Linked DNA regions of Homo sapiens. The protein of the gene in region 2 purifies or fractionates together with the protein of the main gene of each other region. This does not show direct contact. Each region holds a gene or a part of one and is shown on either strand. Other genes may lie near its edges.

Evidence for each region.
Region 1: the proteins of ABCG2 (region 2) and CRAT fractionate together in Homo sapiens (co-fractionation; one large-scale study listed by BioGRID). This does not show direct contact.

Annotation. Positions count from the first base shown.
Region 1 is NC_000009.12:129,100,558-129,104,378, reverse strand, and holds part of CRAT (carnitine O-acetyltransferase), read left to right. Parts: intron 1-72; coding exon 73-191; intron 192-1,312; coding exon 1,313-1,366; intron 1,367-1,813; coding exon 1,814-1,979; intron 1,980-2,321; coding exon 2,322-2,496; intron 2,497-3,689; coding exon 3,690-3,821. UniProt on the Homo sapiens protein: Catalyzes the reversible transfer of acyl groups from carnitine to coenzyme A (CoA) and regulates the acyl-CoA/CoA ratio. Also plays a crucial role in the transport of fatty acids for beta-oxidation.
Region 2 is NC_000004.12:88,089,461-88,092,652, forward strand, and holds the end of ABCG2 (broad substrate specificity ATP-binding cassette transporter ABCG2), read right to left. Parts: intron 2,922-3,192; coding exon 2,774-2,921; 3' UTR 809-2,773; downstream 1-808.

The DNA.
Region 1 (3,821 bases), on a different chromosome or scaffold from region 2:
CCCCTAGCCCTGGGGAACAGGGGGCACCAGGGCCCATGCACCCCTCCTGACAGGCTCTGGCACTTTTCCCAGCTGTCTGAGTGGTGGCTCAAGACCGCCTACCTCCAGTACCGCCAGCCTGTGGTCATCTACTCGAGCCCAGGCGTGATGCTACCCAAGCAGGACTTCGTGGACCTGCAGGGTCAGCTCCGGTGAGTGGCTGGGGTTTGGGGGCCAGGAGGCAGCCGGGCCCCTCGAGTTCACTTCGCCCAGCCGCTTGGAGGGGCCCCGACCCTGTTTATCTTTCTGCCCCACAAGCAGCCTTATGAAGTAGGGAGCATCCTCCCTATTTTACAAATGGGGAAATTGAGGCTCGGAGCAGGGAAGGGAGCTGCCCAAGACCCCATTCAGGAAGCAGGGTCTCTCCAGCTCTAAAGCCTCATGGCTGTTAACCACCACATCTTCGCAGAGGCCCCATCCTCCTCCATACCTGAGGCTTCTCCCCGACCCCAGTTTTAGCACTTCACCTCTCCTTTCCACTCTTCTCAGCTAGCCACAGGGGTGACCTCTGTACACAGTCCTCTTTTCCACATTCAGCCAGGTCACCTGCCCCAGCCCCTATTCCAGTCCTACCAGAGATAAAAATACCAGTGACAAGGATCTCCTGCCCAAGGACCAGCCACTGGCTGCCACCACCTGCTTCTCTTAAAGGGACCAGGGTACCCTGGGAAGGGCCGGGGTTCAGGCCCAGGAACTCCAGCCACTGGTCCCCATGGTGGGATCCAGGGGCGGCCCCAAGCATTGAGGGTGGTTGCCATGGGCCAGACAGCCCTGGGAGGAAGGCGGCCTGGGGGACACAGAGGCCCAGAGTGGGGAAGGGACCTAGTGGAGGGAACACCGGAGCCACTGCTCTCCCATCACACCACCCCAGGGGCCCGGGGCCTCCAGAACCGATGCTTCAGAGCAGATGACACCCCCTCCAGATTCTAGGCTGAGGTTCAGGAGCTCAGGCCCTTTGTGGGTAGACCCAGCCCACTGACCCCTAACCAAGCCACACTCCAGCTGCAGGGGGCCAGCACCCAAGTCCTACTAGGCCCTTGGCCACCAGCACTTCCCCGAGCCCTCCCGACCATGCTCCCTCTAGAGGTTATGAAGAAGCACACACAGGCTGGCAAGCTGGGACTCGCAGGCCCCTCCCTTGCGCTCCCAGGCTTTCTGGAAGCGGTGAGAGAGGCTGGAAGACTAGACCTCCCGCTCCCCAAGCAGGTGTCCCTAGCCCGGGGCCTCCCTCAGGGTGTCCACGCAGCTTCTAATCTCTAATCAATCTTTCCAGATTTGCTGCCAAACTCATTGAGGGTGTGTTGGATTTCAAGGTCATGATTGACAAGTGAGCATCCCCACCCCTGCCCAGCCCCACACCTGCCCAGGCCTGCTTAATTACCACAGCCACCTCTGACCCCAGCCCTGGCCCGGCATGCCAGCTTGGGCCCTGGGCCCTGCTCCAGCTGCTGGAATCTCCTCTTGGTGGGTGACCCTGTCCCATCCCAACTAAAGAGGACCCCAGAGTTTTATTCGCTGCTTCATCTCCCCTGTGACAAACTGAAGCCCAGAGAGGGGAAAGGAGGGAGTTTCTAGATGACTTCTGAACAGGGCCCATCTGGGGCAGAAAGCGAGCCCCCTGCCCACAGCACAGCCCTGAGGTGTCCTGCTCATCTGGGAGTGGGAGCAGGGACACTGTGTGAGCCCCCAGCAGTACCTAGCAGGTCCCTGTCTACCCTGCCCTCCTCCCCATTCACTTGCCCAGTGGTGGCCTCACTGCCCCTCTACCCCATAGCGAGACCCTGCCCGTGGAGTACCTGGGGGGGAAGCCACTGTGCATGAACCAGTACTATCAGATCTTGTCCTCCTGCCGAGTGCCGGGCCCCAAGCAGGACACAGTCAGCAACTTCAGCAAGACCAAGAAGCCTCCCACGCACATCACCGTGGTACACAACTACCAGGTGGGTGGCCCCCACCCACACCTACAAGCCCCGGCCCTGCTGCAGGAGTACAGCCGGACGGCCGCAGTCGGCTTCCCCACTGGGGTTCCCCAGCACACGTGCCCACGTGCCCCAGGAATGGGCGCCCCTGGCTTCTCCATTGGGGGCCCAGGGAGGCCAGGAGGGGCCGTGGGCCTGCCCAGCCCAGAAGGGTGATCCAAGGACCTCCTCCCCCTCTCACCCTTGGCCTGACTCCATCCCCTCCAAGGCCAAGGCCAGGAGGAGGCAGGTGTGGGGAGGTGGCTGCTCTCAGCCTGAGGTCCCCACTCAGCTCCCTCCTCTTACCTGCCTGTGCCCCAACAGTTTTTTGAGCTGGATGTGTACCACAGTGACGGGACACCCCTCACTGCGGATCAGATCTTTGTGCAGCTGGAGAAGATCTGGAACTCATCCCTACAGACCAACAAGGAGCCTGTGGGCATCCTCACCTCCAACCACCGCAACTCCTGGGCCAAGGCATACAACACCCTCATCAAAGGTGCCTCTTGGGGGCCGTGCTGGGGCTGCACACCCAGGCCTCTTCCCCTGTTGGGGACCAGCCTCAACTCCACCTGTAGGGTACCCGAAGTCTGCTGGCAACAAAGGAATGAGAAGAGACAGGTTAAGAGTTCATGAAGGTGGGAGCCAGGGGCCAGTTGCAAAATGGAGGCTGCAAAAGGCGCAGAGTTCTGGTCTCCACACTATTGAGTGCAGTCACTTAGCTCTAAGAAGCACATGTTCAGGGCGAAACAGTGAAAGGGAGGCAGTGCCTCATAGGAGGCATAATCTATAGCAATAGCAGTTTAAATGAATCTCCTTTGTGCTCAAACAGCGTGTCTTTAACTTATCGGAGAGTAGCTGGTGGGAGCGGGCTTAACTAGGAGCCTGCACATCTGTCCACTTCCCAGTGTTTCAAAGGAGTGTCTTTCTCCTTGAACACAGTGTTTACAGATAGGAGAGCGGGTCTCGCTCTGAGCATGGGAACATGATGGCAATTAGTAGGCTTTCCTCCTCCGTGGCCTCTTCTGGCTTTCCACAACTTATTGTCCCCTATTTTTATGGCCAGTTTATACAGGCACCCCACAAGTCCTTTTCCCAACATTCCCCCGGCATGCTGGGCCCCGCACAGCCATGGGCAGACATGTTTCCCGCTGCATCCTCTCAACGTGGAGCAGGCAATGTGGGCCCCATGTCCTAGTTGAGGACACCTCATGGTTAGGGTAGTTTCTCTCAGCTAAATAGCAAGTTAGGATTAGAGTCCAAGTCCTCTGGCTGAGAAGCCCACCCGCCTCCACACCCCCTGTGCCCCCAAGTACCAGCAGTCCTCCAAAGCATGTCTTGCTCAGGGGCATTGACCCCAAAGTCAGACCACCTGTGTGGGTTCCCCGGCTGCCACACCAGCTCCCATGTGACCCCTGGGCTTCGGTTTCCTGTGTCTAAAGTGGGCCAGGTGTTGGGCCCTGCCTCGAGGAGTGCTGTGGGCCTGCAGGGTCCTGTTGAGTTCGAAGCTCTGAACCCACACCCTGCACTTGGTGAATGCCCTGGAGGGCCGGCGAGGTGGGGGGTCTCCTCATCCCAGAGAGGTACAAATGGGTCAGAAGAGCCCAGGGCAGGAGGCTGCGGAGGGGCTGGTCCATCTCTCCCACACCATGAGACCCCATTTTGCGTCTCCCCGCCCCATGCCACCTGCAGACAAGGTGAACCGGGATTCCGTGCGCTCCATCCAGAAGAGCATCTTCACCGTGTGCCTAGATGCAACCATGCCCAGGGTCTCAGAAGACGTGTACCGCAGCCACGTGGCAGGCCAGATGCTGCATGGGGGCG
Region 2 (3,192 bases):
TAATTCGTCTCCATTATAGATTAGTTCTGACATCCAGGAAAATAAAATCAAAAGAATATATATATATAAAAAACATAAAATGAGCACATAAAATTTACCATCTTAACCATTTTAAAATTAAGGAACTTTTTTAAAGTGTGGTTTATTTTCTTATAAAGTAGAAATTTACTTAAGGATATACATACCCATATATAAGATATAAATTATATATACATTATATATATAATTATATAGATAGAAATTATATATAGGATATAATATATAGAGAGGATATAAAAATACAGAGAATATATATAATATATAGGGTACATATAATATATATGGATATCTATATCCTTAAGTACATTTCTACTTTATAAGAAAATAAACCATACTTTAAAAAAAGTTCCTGGCCAGGCGCGCTGGCTCAGGCCTGTAATCCCAGCACTTTGGGAGGCCGAAGCGGGTGGATCACGAGGTCAGGAGATGGAGACCATCCTGACTAACACAGTGAAACCCTGTCTCTACTAAAAATACAAAAAAAAAAAAATTAGCCGGGCGTGGTAGCGGGAGCCTGTAGTCCCAGCCATTACAGGCTGAGGCAGGAGAATGGCATGAACCCGGGAGGCGGAGCTTGCAGTGAGCCGAGATCGCGCCACTGCACCACAGCCTGGGCGACAAAGCGAGACTCTATCTCAAAAAAAAAAAAAAAAAAAAAGTCCTTAATTTTAAAATGGTTAAGATGGTAAATTTTATGTTATCTGGTTCCTACCACAACAAAAGCATATAAAGGTAATTTTAATATAAAAAAAGAATACATAAAATAGGATATAATTAAATTCTCATTTATTTAAAAAGTTAATAATTGTGGCTGTTTTGTTTCTTTTGAAGTATATTTTGTGTAAAAAGTATAGATAGATATTTCTCTCTGTGTAATAAGGGAAGGGTATATATAGAGAACTGTAAGGGACAGGTATGTGAAAAGCAGGAATTATACCAAGAACAGGAAAAACTGATTAATCTTCCTGATCACATAACCAAGAAAAAAGATAATGTGTTCCAAGATGACGCATTAATCAAATGTCATCCAAAAAGAAAAAAGTTCAAAGATAAAAATATAATGCCATGTTCCCAAATTGATGTTGTGACAGAATGTCAGGGCACCCACTGACAAACTAAATGAATTCCAAGATGACCAGTGTCAGGGCGTCTATACACCATGATGCCCCAGCTCAGTTAACTCCTGTAAGTGCTGAAAAGTATTTACTTTTAAAAAAGAGGGCTAGATGAAATGTGGTCTCCTGAATTGAATCCTAGAACAATGAAAGAATATTAGTGGAAAAGTGGTGAAATCTGAATATTGTGTGCAGTTTAATTAACAGTGATTGTACCAATGTTAACTTGTTAGCTTTGACAAATGCATCTTGCTATATAAAATGTTAACATTAAGGGAAGCTGAGCAAAGAGTAGACAGGAACTTTCCTCACTATCTTTGCAACTTTTCTGTCAATCTAAAATTATTTCCAAATTAAAAGTTTATTAAAAAGTGGGGAGATAATTAAGTATCAACCTATGCACACAGAAACACAACACTTGGCTGTAGCAATGTTCTCATAACAGCAACAGAGGGAAATACATCAAGTGTCATTTCAAAAATAACCCAGGGGTAAGGAAGGAAGTAGTGACTGGGAGAATGGCTGAGTAGGCTTTTGTGTGCTACAATCTTCTATTTCTTGACCTGAATTGATGGTTGCACATGTGTGTTCATTTTAATTCACTGAACTATATTTTTTGGTACATTACCCTTCAACTAAAAAAATAAAATTAAAACATTTCCCTATTACTGATGAAGGTTAGAATGAAGAGAACATAAGGTATATAAGTAGGAAAGAAAACCTATGTAGGGACAGATGTTAATAGTTATTAAATCCTAAGTAAAATTTTCAGAACTTGGAAATTACCAAATCCAGGAGTGGTCAGATTCCTTTATGAAGGTAGATCTGGAGCTACTTAGGCCAGATTTTTGTATTTTAGCAAAGTTCCTCAGATGATTCTGACGCACACCTGGATTATAAACCACTAAACCACTGAACTACCCCAAGAAGGTTACGTGACCTCCCAGAGCTAGAATGTTCCAGAAATGGTGCAAGAATTCTATTACTGGACTCCTGGCCCTCTACTCTACCCACAGTTCCAAACCCTCAGCCAAGATTCCTGAGATATTATACCACTAGACAGGAATATCAGTAAGTTCTATTAACTTTAATGTGCTTATCAAAAAGATTTTTTTTCTATCACGGTGGCTTTTTTTACCCTATAAGACAGAATCTTTTTTCCAACATATTTTCAATTTTACATTTCCAGTATAGCATTAATACATTTGTCATTTATTAAATAATGGCAAACCATAGCATCATAAAGTATTAAGACTGAAGGGCTACTAACCTACCTATTCATTTTAAAGATGAGGAAACAAATGCCAGAGACAGTAATAACTTGTCAGGAGTTTCCAGAATTCAATTCTCCTTTTTTAGATTAATAAATTAGACCAGATTTCTTCCCCATGGTTACTGTCTGAGGAGATTAACTAATATGCGATACATGATGTCTTGGGTTCTTTCATGTTTAATTCAGTTTGTTGTGATTTCTAAAAATGTATCTCTTTAAAACAATTGCTGCTGTGCAACAGTGTGATGGCAAGGGAACAGAAAACAACAAAAAAACTTGATTGAATACTTCAATCAAAGTGCTTCTTTTTTATGTGAGGATAAATCATACTGAATTAAGGGGAAATTTAAGAATATTTTTTAAGAAATAACAATTTCAGGTAGGCAATTGTGAGGAAAATAACAATCATACAAGCCAAGGCCACGTGATTCTTCCACAAGCCCCAGGGTGAGAGATCGATGCCCTGCTTTACCAAATATTCTTCGCCAGTACATCTGAAATTAAACAGAAAAAGAATATAACTTCATTCCTAGCATCCGTCAAATGTTACTCAGTATATCCACTGTTCCTTAAAGGAGCCTAAAATTGAACCAAGCCTTTAATAATTACCCCTTCAGATATCATAGCTAACAGTCATTGTGTGTTTACAATTTTGCTAGACACTAACAAACAACATGGACCTAACTTAGTTAATTCCTAAAACAATCCAATGTGATAGACATTGTACACACTTAAAAGATGAGGGGACTAACGTTTAAGGAACTT